4 linked regions of the Homo sapiens genome follow. The protein of the gene in region 1 purifies or fractionates together with the protein of each later gene. This does not show direct contact. Each region holds a gene or a part of one and is shown in the gene's direction. Other genes may lie near its edges.

The links. Proteins that work in one complex are often made in the same cells at the same time.
Region 2: the proteins of PUDP (region 1) and USP34 purify together in Homo sapiens (affinity purification with mass spectrometry; one large-scale study listed by BioGRID and IntAct). This does not show direct contact.
Region 3: the proteins of PUDP (region 1) and NANP fractionate together in Homo sapiens (co-fractionation; one large-scale study listed by BioGRID). This does not show direct contact.
Region 4: the proteins of PUDP (region 1) and FCSK purify together in Homo sapiens (affinity purification with mass spectrometry; one large-scale study listed by BioGRID and IntAct). This does not show direct contact.

The regions. Positions count from the first base shown.
Region 1 is NC_000023.11:7,048,336-7,051,297, reverse strand, and holds the end of PUDP (pseudouridine-5'-phosphatase), read left to right. Parts: intron 1-825; coding exon 826-1,002; 3' UTR 1,003-2,378; downstream 2,379-2,962. UniProt on the Homo sapiens protein: Dephosphorylates pseudouridine 5'-phosphate, a potential intermediate in rRNA degradation. Pseudouridine is then excreted intact in urine.
Region 2 is NC_000002.12:61,191,578-61,195,172, reverse strand, and holds part of USP34 (ubiquitin carboxyl-terminal hydrolase 34), read left to right. Parts: intron 1-2,192; coding exon 2,193-2,272; intron 2,273-3,595. UniProt on the Homo sapiens protein: Ubiquitin hydrolase that can remove conjugated ubiquitin from AXIN1 and AXIN2, thereby acting as a regulator of Wnt signaling pathway.
Region 3 is NC_000020.11:25,621,205-25,625,519, reverse strand, and holds the start of NANP (N-acylneuraminate-9-phosphatase), read left to right. Parts: upstream 1-1,505; 5' UTR 1,506-1,571; coding exon 1,572-1,661; intron 1,662-4,315. UniProt on the Homo sapiens protein: Catalyzes the dephosphorylation of N-acylneuraminate 9-phosphate (Neu5Ac-9-P) to N-acetylneuraminic acid (Neu5Ac or sialic acid). Can also use N-glycoloylneuraminate 9-phosphate as substrate.
Region 4 is NC_000016.10:70,468,010-70,471,604, forward strand, and holds part of FCSK (L-fucose kinase), read left to right. Parts: intron 1-839; coding exon 840-959; intron 960-1,142; coding exon 1,143-1,314; intron 1,315-2,304; coding exon 2,305-2,417; intron 2,418-2,961; coding exon 2,962-3,063; intron 3,064-3,172; coding exon 3,173-3,343; intron 3,344-3,595.

The DNA.
Region 1 (2,962 bases):
TTCCATTCCTGAGTTACTTAGAATAATGGCCTCCAGCTCCATCCATGTTGCTGCAGAAGACATTATTTCATTCCTTTTTATGTCTGAGTAGTATTCCATGGTGTATATATGCCTCATTTTCTTTATCCGCTCATTGGTGGATGGGCACTTAGGTTGGTTCCATATCTTTGCAGTTGCCAGTAGGAAACACCCCATTTTCAATGTGGGTATCTGAATGAAGAGACCACGGGTTTTGGATGGTGTTGTGTCTGTAATCCCAATAATAAAGTGGATTTTCGCGATTATCCAAAAGAGAGCATGCACGCACACTACGTTTTCGTGCTCATTTGTCACGTCACACTAGCACACACAGGAACTGAATTTTTAACTTAAAAGATTCTAACCATTTAATTTTCAAACCACAGTACATAAAACAGGAGCAGCTCTGAAGTGGTTTTATATTTTAAGAGCATGATTTTTAGTTTTGCAATTGCCTCTCACACTCTGAATGTTCAATTATTGATTGAACAGATTGTTATGATCCCAATAAAATAATAAAGTTTTAAGCTGAGAATCTTGCCTCACCACACAGCTGCGCTCCATTTCAACAATGCTTTGGCTGCAACAGAAACCTCTCCCCTTTAAAGGAGCCACGGCGGGGAGACCCCCGGAGCCAGTAAGAAACAGCATGCTGTCCTCACCACAATCTCTACTCTGGGGAGCCCCCACTGTAATTCTGTCTCTTTCTGCACAGTTGCAGAGCCAATGGTGACGACGATAATAAACACTTCATCCACATGTCTGGTTCCATAAAAGGCCATCTCGACTTTCTTTTTCTTCCTACAGTGCCTTGTCTTTGAAGATGCTCCCAATGGGGTGGAGGCGGCCCTGGCAGCTGGGATGCAGGTGGTCATGGTTCCTGACGGAAACTTGAGCCGAGATCTGACAACAAAGGCCACCCTGGTGCTGAATTCCCTGCAGGACTTCCAGCCCGAGCTGTTTGGTTTGCCCTCCTATGAGTGAGAGGGAGGGCCTCAGTCTTCCGCCCCCAGCCCACTCTCATGGTCCACACTGCTGGGGGAAAGGGAAAGGAAATCAGCAACTCTTCAATCCCAACCTGCGCTGTGATTTTAGCCTCCTGAGATTGGAGTTTCCATCCCATGTTGGTTTGTCCCAGTCTAACGTGTTGATAAAATGTGACTTGACGGTTGAGACAAAAAATACAGTAGAGACAGAAACGAAGCCCAGAACAAAGATGAAACTTGAATTACCATCTCAGAAGTCAAGCTGATGGAGTATGTGATAAAGTGAATGTACATGTATATACACACACACCTCCATATATACATGTGTGTATCAGTTTGGTAATATGCAGGTAGGCATTACATGCATATGTATGTAGACATATGCATGCATGTATATGTAAAATATATACTTTTCCAAGACAAAATGGAACATCACTTCTCTCTTCTAGTTTTTCTGAACACTGGCTGGGAAATGTAAACTGTGTATGCATATAAGTATATGCTTTATGTATGCATATGTATGTAGATATGTTTATATCTATCGTCTGCATCACTCTCCTCAGTGTTGATGTCAACATGCAATGACAACTGATAAAGCGAGATGGTAGTTCTGCCTGGTTTGCAGTCTGAGTGGGAAAGTCCTGTTTTTGATGAGCACTCCTTGTTAGCTAACATTTAAATTCTTTTTGTGACCTCAGAATGTCTCTGGATCTTTCCTCATTGACTGACTCTGTGCCACGTCATCCATAGTTTATTGTTAGTATGAACACAACTGTAACATTTACCTGGTATCTACATCCTTACCTGCATTGGAAAATGTTTGCTACCTCACAACAACCATTTGCCTCCTTTAAGAACACTGATGGGCTGCACTTTTTGGATAGAAATAGAATTTGATTTCAGAATGTATGCTTGGTGAGTCTCAGTGCCCAGGAACACTTTTGGAATAATTTATCAGACATTGAACTTCTGTGATTAATCGCTTTTATAGATTTACTCAGTCTTTAAAATTCGTCTCTGATTTGCCAGAGAAAAACGGTGGTAGCCATGGAAATCGGGAGTGAAGGAGCACTGCTTCATTGTGGCTCAGCCCTTCCTAGGGGCCTCTGCCCTTTGATGTCCTTGAGCTACTCTTCAGCTCTGGAAGTTGTGGACAAACCGTAGGAATGTATGTGTGCGTGTGGTGGAGTGATTGTCTGTGAATGACAGGCCCTGGCTATTGATTGATGTTGCATCAATTTAGCAAATTCATTTCCTCATTCTTGATGGCCTGAATATATGTCTGCACTTTTAATGCTCCTCTTAACCAGTTGTAACATCTTACCATTTCCCTAACAAATTGAATTAGTTTAATAAAATCTTTTGACACATGTTGATATTTGTATGAGAGTCATGATTTTACCTTAAAAAGAAAAAAACAGTCTTCCAAGAAATGTAAAATATATATGTGACTAATTAAATTTTTTAAAAATCCCAATTAGTACTCCAACTGTAAACGGATATTTATATATTTTAAGTGAGCCGTCCTGCTCCTGCAGTGGTGAATAGAGGCTTTCAATGAAAGACTTACTTCTTTGATTTAGTATCTTCTCCTTCCCAAGTATTTATGTTGGTGTTTTCTAATCATTAAGCCATTTTGTATGAATAAGACAAATGGGTGTAATGCATATCTAAGTGATGTGCATCTACATCTGGGTGAATTTCCTACAGGGTAAATTTGATCTCATGTCCGTTACTGTTTTTTAACCAAAGCTGCTGCCAGATTCTTATATTTTTAGACAAAGGACACACACTGATGCTTGGCCAAAGCACATACGTTCTTTTTTATTCTTCCACATTAGCCAAATTGCTTCAATACATTTTAGTGATGTTACTCCATTGAATAGCTCATGGATTTCACAGAGATATGGTAATACAAATTTACACTAGAGTGATACATGCCAAGGAAGTTTAAAGAG
Region 2 (3,595 bases), on another chromosome or scaffold:
TCTTGGCTTACTGCAACCTCTGCCTTACGGGTTCAAGCAGTTCTCCTGCCTCAGCCTCCTGAATAGCTGGGATTACAGGTGTGTGCCACCACACCCAGCCAATTTTTGTATTTTTAGTAGAGACGGGGTTTCATTATTCTCCTGCCTCGGCCTCCCAAAGTGCCGGGATTACCAGCGTGAGTCACCATACCTGGCCCAAAACTTTTTTTTTTTTTTTTTTTGACAGAGTTTCACTCTTGTTGTCCAGGCTGGAGTGCAATGGCACGATCTCGGCTCACCGCAACCTCCGCCTGCCGCGTTCAAGCAATTCTCCTGCGTCAGCCTCCCAAGTAGCTGGGATTACAGGGATGTGCCACCACGCCCTGCTAGTTTTGTATTTTTACTAGAGACGGTTTCTCCATGTTGGTCAGGCTGGTTGCGAATTCCTGACCTCAGGTGATCCGCCCACCTTGGCCTCCCAAAGTGTTGGGATTACAGGCATGAGCCACTGCGCCTGGCCCCAAAATATTTTTTTAAGAAAATTGTCCCAGCCTGCAGTCTTAGCTACTACGGAGGCTAAGGTGTAAGGATCACTTGAGCACAGCGGTTCAAGGCTGCCCCTGATCTGTGATCACGCCACTGCACTCCAACCTGGGCAACAGAGTGAAGACACTGTCTGTCTCAAAGAAAAAGCCATTCTTAGCTCACAAGTCCATATAAAAACAGGCCATGGGTCAGATTTGGCCTGAGGGCCATAGTTTGCTAACCCTTCCTCTACTTTGATGAGTAATTAGGATACAGGAACATGGGAACGTAGGAACTCTCTTCCCTATAGCCACAGATGTGATGACATGTCCTTGTTTACCTATGTGTGTGGTGATACCGTGGTGGGTATATGCTGCCAAACACCAACCAGATTAGGTTAGGATAAAGGGGAAGTAGCATTTCCTTGCCTCTTGTGTCTAAAGGGACTCATCTTGACAGGAAAATAAATTGGCTTACCTGTGGAAGGGATCCTAGGCATCCTTGGTAAGTTCTGAGTGAGTGACCTGACTTGCCTGTGTAGGATGTTCTCAAGTCCTTGGTCTAACCCACGGTTTGGCAAATTACAACCCACATGCTGCCTGTTTTTGTATAACCATGGCTACCTGCTAGCTAAGAATAGTTTTCATATTTTTAAATTTTTTTTTAATATAGAATATTTTCTGACATGAAAATTATGAGATTCCCATTTCAGTGTTTGTAAAGTTTTACTGAAAGACAGCCACACCCATTTCCTTACTCTTGTCTAAGGCTGCCTTCACACTGCCTCAGCAGGGTTGAGCTGTGTTAACAGAGCATGGCCACAAAGCCTCAAACACTATTTGGCCCTTCCCAGAACAAGTTTGCTGACTCCTTGTCTAACTCAGTCTTTTCTTAACTGGAAGAGGATGGTCTGTGTTATATTTCTTCTTCTCCATGATTATACTTGCCCTGGGGACCCTAGGGGATGTGGAAGATGGGAAATTCATTTAGGACTGTGGTAATGAAGCTTCTGTACTTTCAGAGATAGGATGACAGAGGATAGGGGCACACATCTTAGTGACATATTTTACATCTGGAATAGTCAAGAAGTGGAGAAGTAAATTCATAGAGGTTCCAAATAGCACTCTCTGACATAGTGCCAGATGCGGTCCACTCAGAAGATCCTGGGAACAAGCCAAGAAACTGGTGTTAAGGGCCGCATTTACTTAAATGTACCACAAAGGTCATTCTATCTTTGAAGAAAGAAGGTAAAAGAGGAAAGATATGTTTAATTCTCCACTTTTTTTTTTTTTTTTTTTTTTTTACCTTTCCCCTCCTCCCTCCTGCAGTCTAGCCACCCTATGAAAATTATCTAATAGGCAGAGTGGTACCTTAATCCAAGAAAGATTTGGAGCCACTTGCAGTAACTTTTTCTTTTCCCAGATAAAGTTCTAATACTCAAAAAAGAAGAGTTGATTTAAGTCCCATATCCTTCAGGAATGAGGTATAGGATATAAATAAATTCAAAGTACCACATTCTAAGATATTTCACTAAACATTGGAATGAATTTTTCCCCTTTATGTACTTTAAAATATAGAAAATATGCAGTTATGACTAGAAATAGCTGTAATATTGTACCTGCAGAGTTGAGTATCTCACTAGTATAATTTATAATTATAACCTATTCTGATTTCTTTTCAAATATTAGGTGTCCTAGTTGCCTATGAAGGTTTGCCACTTCATCTTGCACTGTTCCCCAAACTTTGGACTGAGCTATGCCAGACTCAGGTAAAGAAAATGAGTTTTAGATGATTGGTCTTTAATCTTATCTGACCAAGTGGTCAATAATTTTAGGAACAGTGGGTTGAAGACTTGCTGAAAAGTGGGGACATTTTAGAATCTTGATAGGTAACATATGAATGAATGAAAATACTAGCTATTACATATTAGGCATCTAGTTTCCCTTTGATTTTTTTAACTTAAGTAGATTTCTATCATAGAGGATATTTTAAATAAGCTGGTTATAATTGAATTTCTCATTTATAGATGTATATCAACAGTTGTGGGGAAAATCCAAAACAGGGAGATAGTGGGGGAAAAGGCACTTGCCACTTCTTCCTCTCCTTCACCTCCCTGTCTCTACCTCTTTTCCACCATTCCAAAACCTCTAGCAGAAACCCTGTCAGCAGTCTGTCCTTTAGCTTTTCATAATCTGTAGTTTTTCAGGGGTCTGATGCACTTGTTTTCTTACAGCGATCTCCTTGAAAACAGGAAAGATTACTGTTCCTACCTTAAGTGTCTAAGAGCCAACTCCTTAAAATTAAGTGGCTGCATAAATAATGCTTGTTAAGTTACAAAGGCAGAATTGGGAAGAGGAGGAGGTACTAATGTTTGGCTCATTCCTTGGATCAGGCATAAAGGATCCCCACTACCTTTCAGTCCCTGAAAAAACTGTTGATTGTACTGCCTGGTTGCATCTGCTCTACCCCATTGGAAGAGATGAATTTATTCACCTTCCTTAGGTGCAACCCTTGACCCACATCATGCTTTCCTGAAGTATTTTGAGTCTGGTTCAGCCTCCTACCAGGCTGTAGTGTGCTCTGGATTCTCCTAGATGTTTGCCATCCTGTACTCTACTGGTGGTTTCTCTACTTTTCCAAAACAGAACTCAAGTGTAGAGACCTTATCAGAGTCATCTCCATCCCCTGAAGAAATGCCACGTTGTTCTCTACAGTAGAAATCTTTCAGAGGCTAGTATACACTGATCTTAGCTCACTTGACTTAGCATACAGTAGGCATTCAGAAAATGACTTTTATCAGTTGATTTTTGAGCTGAGTGTTCTGTTCAGTCAATTGGAGATCTCGTTTTCCCTCTCCACTGCTACTGCTGTTCTTTTTCATTCTTCCTGATTTGGGTAGTTTCTTGGTTTCTGTACTCTCCCACTACCTATTGCTCCCTATTGCTTTCTCTACTTCTGCATCGCAGGACTCCCTTCGCTTGACTTCTTTCACAGACAGAACTCACTGTGCCCCCAAATTTCCCTTAAAACAAAGCCTAACCATATAAGGCCTCCAAAGCTTCCAGTGCTATAGAAGCAGCCATCCTGAGCA
Region 3 (4,315 bases), on another chromosome or scaffold:
GTGAGAGACTGGCAATTTTTTTCTCTAAAGAGCTAAATAATGAATATTTTAGGATTTCCAGCCACGTGGTCTCGCTTACAATTACTCAACTCTGTCTGCTTCTGTATGGCAACAGCAGCCACAGACGATACAGAAATGAATGTGTGCGCTGTGTTCTAATGCAACTATGGGCACTAAAATTTCTTGATTTTCATGTGTAACAAAACACTGTTATTTTGATTTTTTAAATCCATTTACAAATGTAAAAATCACCCTTAGCCAGGCGCGGTGGCTCACGCCTGTAATCCCAGCTCTTTGGGAGGCCAAGACGGGTGGATCACGAAGTCAGGAGTTCGAGAACCAGCCTGGCCAACATGGTGAAACTCCGTCTCTACTAAAAATACAAAAATTAGCCGGGGGGTGGTGGCATGCGCCTGTAATCCCAGCTACTCAGGAGGCTGAAGCCGGAGAATTGCTTGAACCCGGGAGGCGGAGGTTGCAGTGAGCCAAGATCGTGCCACTACACGCCAGACTGGGTGACAGAGCAAGACTCCATCTCGAAAATAAAAATAAAAATAAATTAAAAAATAAAAAAAACCACTTAGCTCACTGGCTAAACAAAATCAGGTAATTGGCCTGTACCTGACAGTCAATTTCTGGTCACTAATGATGACCACATATCCAAATTACAGTAAAGGTACCCAAGAGAGACAAAGATTAGAGATTAGTGTTACGATCCCCGTTCTGCCAGCACTAGGAGACAAGAGTTGCTACAGCCCTTCCGCGGGTTTAAAAGGCGGTCGACGTCCCTCAACCTCTTGCTATGCCTGAAAACAACCGAGTAAAAGGCATCCAAAGACCTGAGAACGCAAGGTTTCAGGAAAACAATCAGGAAGGGCAAAACATGGGGCAGCCACTACACAGCCCCTCCGTCTTAGGGCACAGGTACTAAACGGGTTGTAAGAGACCCAAGTCACATCCTTCAGAAACGTGCTGGCGCGGGCCCAGGCAGACAGGGATTCCACCCCGGCGAAGGCCGCAAATGGCGCGAGGCGGGAAGGCGCAGGCTCCACCTTCCCCCGTCCCCAGATCACCTACAGTGACCTGCGCGTACAGGCAGGCTAGGACCGCGGGCGCTCAAGGCAGACATCAGGCCCGCCGACGTCTCCGCGCCGCCCGCCCGGCCACCCGGAGAGCCTGCTGCCCAGCGCCTGGCAGCGCGGACAACCTCTCTCGGGGAGGTGATGACGGTCCCTCGCGCCGGAGGGCCCAGGGAGGAAAGAGATAAGCAGAAAGACACCAGGGAAGAACACCACGCTTCGGACCAACGCCAGCCACAGCCACTGAGAAGTCGCCGCATCCGGCGGCGCCGACACACGTTTCCAGGGCTCTTGAGAGACCATACCCTGGGAGTCTCGCGGGATCTCACTTTTCTCGGCGGCGCAGGGAATGAGACAGATCGCGGGAATTCCACCCGCGCCGGGAGATGGTCTGGTGACTTCGCGGCTCCTCCCACGTCTCTCTGGGCAGTCCGCCTTGCGCATGCGCAGGCGGCGGTGGCAAGGCTACGGTTCGCGCCAGCGGCCGGCGCTATGGGGCTGAGCCGCGTGCGGGCGGTTTTCTTTGACTTGGACAACACTCTCATCGACACGGCCGGGGCGAGCAGGAGAGGCATGTTGGAGGTAACGTCCCCACCCATGGCGCTCCTCTGGGCGGGGTCAGTGCGCCCCGCCCCGTCCTGCACGCTCACCTCCCCTTGACCCCACTTCCACCCCGGCGCCGCGGGCCGCTCTTGCTGGTTGAAACCTGTGGAGCGTGCGGGTGCGGAGGTGGCTGGAGGCGCGCGGGCCCTGCGGGTCTGCTTTCCCTGGCCTGGCGGCCGCTTGTCACCCAATCTCGAGCCCTGGAGCGGCTGCTCGCAGGTGCCTTGGCGCTCGGGACGCGGAAGGGCTCCGTGACGGCTGCCACGGTGGCGGAGGTGCCCGTGGGCGCGGGAGGCGACAGCAAAGCCGCGAGACCAGGCGCTGGTCCCGCCCCCGGTCAGACTGTCGGTGTGGAGCTCGACAGAGGGTCGTGTCCCCCATGCGACTTTCGGGGTTGCTGGGAGGAGACATGGTAGAGTTAGCCCCAGTGTTGACCCAAGAAGGGACACGGCTGTCAGTACCGAGCCTGGACTTAAGCCCTGCTTTAGAGAATTGTCGCCGCAGAACTTCTTCTGGCCTCCCTGGCGGGGTGGTGGTCACCGTGGCTTTCTGACACGTGACACAGCAAAAGCCCGTGCTGCGAGGGCATGCCCTTCCTGAGGCGCTCCTCCGCGGCACTGCCCCTCTACACGCGCGGAGGCGCTTTCAGACCTTCCCGTGTTCCAGCCCCAGTCCACCCCGGCTTCCCTTTCTCTACCTTCAGCTTCAAGGGGAAAGGGAAGGATTTATCAGATGTGGAAAACTCACTTTCAAAAGCTAATTCATCCAAACCTGAGCGCCCCGTCCTCTTCATGCTTCATCAGTTAGTTTTTGTGTCCCTGGATCTTCCACTACCTCATCCGTTTTCTTTTTAGCTGCATTCCACTCCTGCCGCATATTCATGTTTGCCCTATAGTTTTAAAAAAGCTGTAAAAAGGATGCCTCCCTTTGGGCTATTCTTCCTGCTGTAGATGTTGCCTGTCTCTCTTGACAGCCATGTTTTCCCGGAGAAATCTATACCCGTTATCTCCTTGTCTCTACCTCCTATTTATTACTAAATCCATCGTAATGTCGCTTTATCTTCACCGCTAGACTGAAATAGACTTGCTGGATCACTAGGCATTCCCAAAATGCCGGAATCAGTAGACATTTTTAAAGTCTGTCTTCATGACTTTACTGAGGCATTCCACACTTTTAACTTGTTGGCCTCCACCTCAGGGGTGCCACCCTGTGCCATATTGCCTCCAGTATCTCTCGCTGCAGATGTTACATATTTACCTGTGTGTTATTAGTAAGCTGAGTCCTGTGCATTTCAATTAAATTATTGCTTTAGGCCAATTCTTGCTGTAGGCCCAGAGTTTGGGCTTTAAAATCAGACATTTGAATATGAATCACAGCTCTCCCAAAACCTAGCTGAAAGTGCCTCAAGGAATTAACCACTCGGAGCCTTATATCTTCATAAAATGTGAATTATATTAGTCCTCAATAACCCTGTAATACTTGGGAAGCCCATGGTTGCAGTGTCCACTCAGCGAACTATAGCACCTTCCACCCTCGTACGCTGTCTGTCCACCACTGCACATGCCCCGTGCATGTCTCAGTTACAGCTGAACTCATCTCTCACCTAGACTGTTGCTGTGGGCTTGTCTCCAGGTTTACCACATCCAGTGTGTCCTCCACATTCTTGCCACAGCAATATTTTTAAAACAAAGACTAAATCGTATGCCTCCCTGGTCTTTACACCCTCACTTATAGTAGTGCTGTATTTTGTTCAGATATTTCTTAATGCATCTGTCAAAGGATATTTCAATTAATTTTGCAACTCAGGTGCCTACTACTAAATAGTGAGCTTCTTGGGAGGGAACAAGCTGTCTTAATTATCCTCGTTTGACACATGGCAAATGTTGAATAAATGCTGGATGGATGGATACAAATTTTTACTTCGAGACTTGGTTCTATTACTGCCTCCTTTATAATTACAAATCATTGTAAATAATTTATGAATGGGCCGGGCGCGGTGGCTCACGCCTGTAATCCCAGTACTTTGGGAGACCGAGATGGGCAGATCACGAGGTCAGCAGATGGAGACCATCCTGGCTAACACGGTGAAACCCCGTCTCTACTAAAAATACAAAAATTAGCCGGGTGTGTTGGCGGGCGCCTGTAGTCCCAGCTACTGGGGAGGCTGAGCCAGGAGAATGGCGTGAACCCGGGAGGCGGAGCTTGCAGTGAGCCGAGATCGCGCCACTGCACTCCAGCCTGGGCGACAGAGCCAGACTCCGTCTCAAAAAATAATAATAATTTATGAATGGAGGAAGAGGGAAAGGTCCAGCCATTTATGGCCTTGGGCTTGGGGAGAAGAGGTCATATACTGACTGTATGTATCAACTTTAATTTTTTCTAATCACCTAGGGAAGTTATTTTTTTTCTCCCTCTTTAGACCTGTTTTTCATGGTAATTACTCAAGAGGAACTTTTCTACAGAAGCCTGGAGTTTCTCAGTGAACAAAGCAGAAGAGATTTCTGCATTTGTGAATTTACTTCTTAGTGGGTATGGCAGTGAACATAATAAATATTTACAGGTGTGATAGAAAAAGCAGAGAGGGTAACAAATCAACATTTTAAATAGACTGGTCAGATTTGGCCTCATCGAGT
Region 4 (3,595 bases), on another chromosome or scaffold:
GGGACAGGGAGGGAGGGTCTGACTTCCTTCGATTCCTTCTAGAAGCCTCCAGGACAAGCTAGAGCTAGAATCTGAGGACAGGGTAGCCTTGGAATTCAGGGTCTTGTCCTGAGCCAGAAAGCCTAGAACCAGGCGGGCACGGTGGCTAACGCCTGTAATCCCAGCACTTTAGGAGGCTGAGGCGGGTGGATCAGTTGAGGTCAGGAGTTCGAGACCAGTCTGGGCAACGTGGTGAAACCCTGTCTCTACTAAATACAACAATTAGCTGAGCATGGTGGTGTGTGCCTGTAATCCCAACTACTTGAGAGGTAGAGGCTCGAGAATCGCTTGAACCCAGGAGGCGGAGGTTGCGGTGAGCAGAGATCGTGCCACTGCACTTCAGCCAGGGTGACAGAGCGAGACTCTGAATCAATCCCCTGCCCGCTGTAAAACAAAACAAAGCAAACCTCAAAAACTCAAACGAAAAAAGAAAGCCTAGAACCAGAATGTGAGCAAGTTAGGGAGTGCGGTTGGGAGGAGGCCTAGAGCCAGACTCCGGGAATGCTTCCATCATGAGGGGCAAGGATTGGAGAGGCATGGAGATCTGGGAGTGGACCATGGCGAGGGTGGAGAACTGGGTTCAGGAGAAGGCCTGACAGTTGAGGGTGTCCCAGAAGGTGTCTTGGTGGGAGCTACCCCAAGTAAGCCTGGAGTCTGGCTGCTGGAGTGGTCAGAAGGTGACACTCCCTGCCTGGTATGGCACTCAGCTTCATGTGGCCCATCTGCATGTGCCCTCCCTGACTTGTACCAGGGCCTGGTCCAGGGCCCTCCATCTCTGATCCTTTTGGGGTCCCTTCCAGGTCTCTGGGGTTGTCTTCTTCTCTGTGGAGACTGCCGAGCGCCTCCTAGCCACCCACGTGAGCCCGCCCCTGGATGCCTGCACCTACCTAGGCTTGGACTCCGGAGCCCGGCCTGTCCAGGTGACTGGGGGAGGGCAGCTAGGTGGGGCCTGGCTTGGGGGCGAGGCACTGTGTGACCTCAGGCCAGCCACTTCCCCTCTCTGGGGCAGAGTCTCCGCAGACGGGACTGCCCTGGTTCAGCCTCAGAACTTGGGGGCTGAACCCCTGCCATGCCAATAGCTGTGCTTCTTCCCCTTCCCCTAGCTGTCTCTGTTTTTTGACATTCTCCACTGCATGGCTGAGAACGTGACCAGGGAGGACTTCCTGGTGGGGAGGCCCCCAGAGTTGGGGCAAGGCGATGCAGATGTAGCGGGTTATCTGCAGAGCGCCCGGGCCCAGCTGTGGAGGGAGCTTCGCGATCAGCCCCTTACCATGGGTGGGTACTGCCTCTCAGCTCCCTGGGGTGGGGAGACCATGGGAGTGAGGACCCCAAGAATGGAGCTGCTCACTGCATGCTGGGCCAGGCAGCCCAGCACAGGGACTGGGCAGTTCTCCTGTCCTGTGCCAGAGCCCCCCACTGAGCTACCTCCTTCCCCTTCTTGTCTTCCTTTTGTCTCATTCCTGGGCTCTCCCAGCCTGTCCACTTTTGTTTCTGTTTTTTTTTGTTTGTTTGTTTTGTTTTTTGAGACGGACTCTCTCTTTGTCGCCCCGGCTAGAGTGAGGTGGTGCGATCTCAGCTCACTGCAACCTCCGCCTCCTGGGTTCAAGCAATTCTCCTGCCTCAGCCTCCTGCGTACCTGGGATAATAGCCATGCATCATCACACTTGGCTAATTTTTCTATTTTTAGTTGGTCAGGCTGGTCTTGAACTCCTGGCCTCAGGTGACCCGCCTGCCTTGGCCTCCCGAAGTGCTGGGCTTACAGGCATGAGCCACCATGCCCGGCCCTAACCTGTCTGCTTTCTTTTTTTTTTTTTGAGACAGAGTATGGCTCTGTTGCCCAGGCTGGAGTGCAGTGGCGTAATTTCGGCTCACTGCAACCTCTGCGTCTCAGGTTCAAGCGATTCTCCTGCCTCAGCTGCCTGAGTAGCTGGGATTACAGGTGCGTGGCACCATGCCTGGCTAATTTTTGTATTTTTAGTAAAGATGGGATTTCACCATGTTGGTCAGGCTGGTCTCGAACTCCTGACCTCGTGATCTGCCTGCCTCGGCCTCCCAAAGTGCTGGGATTACAGGCGTGAGCCACTGTGCCCGGCCAACCTGTCTACTTTCTAGCTGTGTTGTGTGGCTTTGGGCAGGTTCCTGACTCAGCTTCCCCTAACAGGCTCATGGCCACACCTGCCCCCATGTGTCTCTGCTGCTGGGAGGCAGCCTGGCCCCTGAGTCGCAGCAGGCATGGGGTTGGGTTCAGTACTTATGTCTTTACAGCCTATGTCTCCAGCGGCAGCTACAGCTACATGACCTCCTCAGCCAGTGAGTTCCTGCTCAGCCTCACACTCCCCGGGGCTCCTGGGGCCCAGATTGTGCACTCCCAGGTGGAGGTGAGACCTCCCTGCCCCTCCGGTGCCTGCTGGTTGTCTGGGGTCAGGTGGGATGTGGATTCCCGGGAAGAAAATAGCCGGCACTTGGAACAGATGACCCGAGTGCAGGTGTTACCCTGGTTTACACATGAAGTGCTGGAGGCTCAGAGAGGCTAAGTAACTTGCCTAAGGCCACAGAGCCAGTAAGTGGCCAACTCAGGATTCTGCATTGAGCTTGCCTGATTGAGAAGCTAAAGGAGACCTTTATTTGGGGTCTGCCTGGGGTGACAGTGGTGGGCCTGGGTCAGTGCCGTGCTGCTGAGGAAGGGGACAGGTAGGGTTCAGAGGTGGCCCCCAGGGTGGCAAGGTTGGGCGTAGTTGGACAGGTGGGATGGAAATAGGTCTCAGGCTGGGGCCAAGGCAGGTCCAGAGAGGAGTCTAGGGTGCTGCAGGGCAGGGGAGCAGTAGGCCTGGACGCTTTGCCCCTGGATGCTTGGCTTGGGAGGAGAGCTGGGGCAGCCCTGGGCCTCGACCCCCCTCATGCTCCTCCTACCTGGCTGCACAGGAGCAGCAGCTTCTGGCGGCCGGGAGCTCTGTGGTCAGCTGCCTGCTGGAGGGCCCTGTCCAGCTGGGTCCTGGGAGCGTCCTGCAGCACTGCCACCTGCAGGTGAGGCCTGAGCGTGTGGGCAGATTGGGGCGAGGGTGCTGGCATCCCGCATGTGTTGGGGGGTGTTGGGTGCCTGCCCACCCAGGATGCCTGCCCTGTCCCCCACCAGGGCCCCATTCACATAGGCGCTGGCTGCTTGGTGACTGGCCTGGATACAGCCCACTCCAAGGCCCTGCATGGCCGGGAGCTGCGTGACCTTGTCCTGCAGGGACACCACACGCGGCTACACGGCTCCCCGGGCCACGCCTTCACCCTCGTTGGCCGTCTGGACAGCTGGGAGGTAGGCAGTCACCCTGCATTCCCTCACCCCCATCTTCAGGCTTTGGGGAGCCCAAGGAGTCCTGGCCCCCACCCCACTGCGGGGTTCTCTGAGCACTGGCCCGTGGGACAGGCTGTGAGGAGGGTCGGATGTAGGGAGGAGAGAATGAGGGAGGAGATAGGGTGAAGATAGGCTGTGAGACCAGCAGAGTCTCCACAGGCCTTTACCTCCCTCCTTGCATCTGCTCTGCCAGGTGGGCTGGGTGGGGATTTT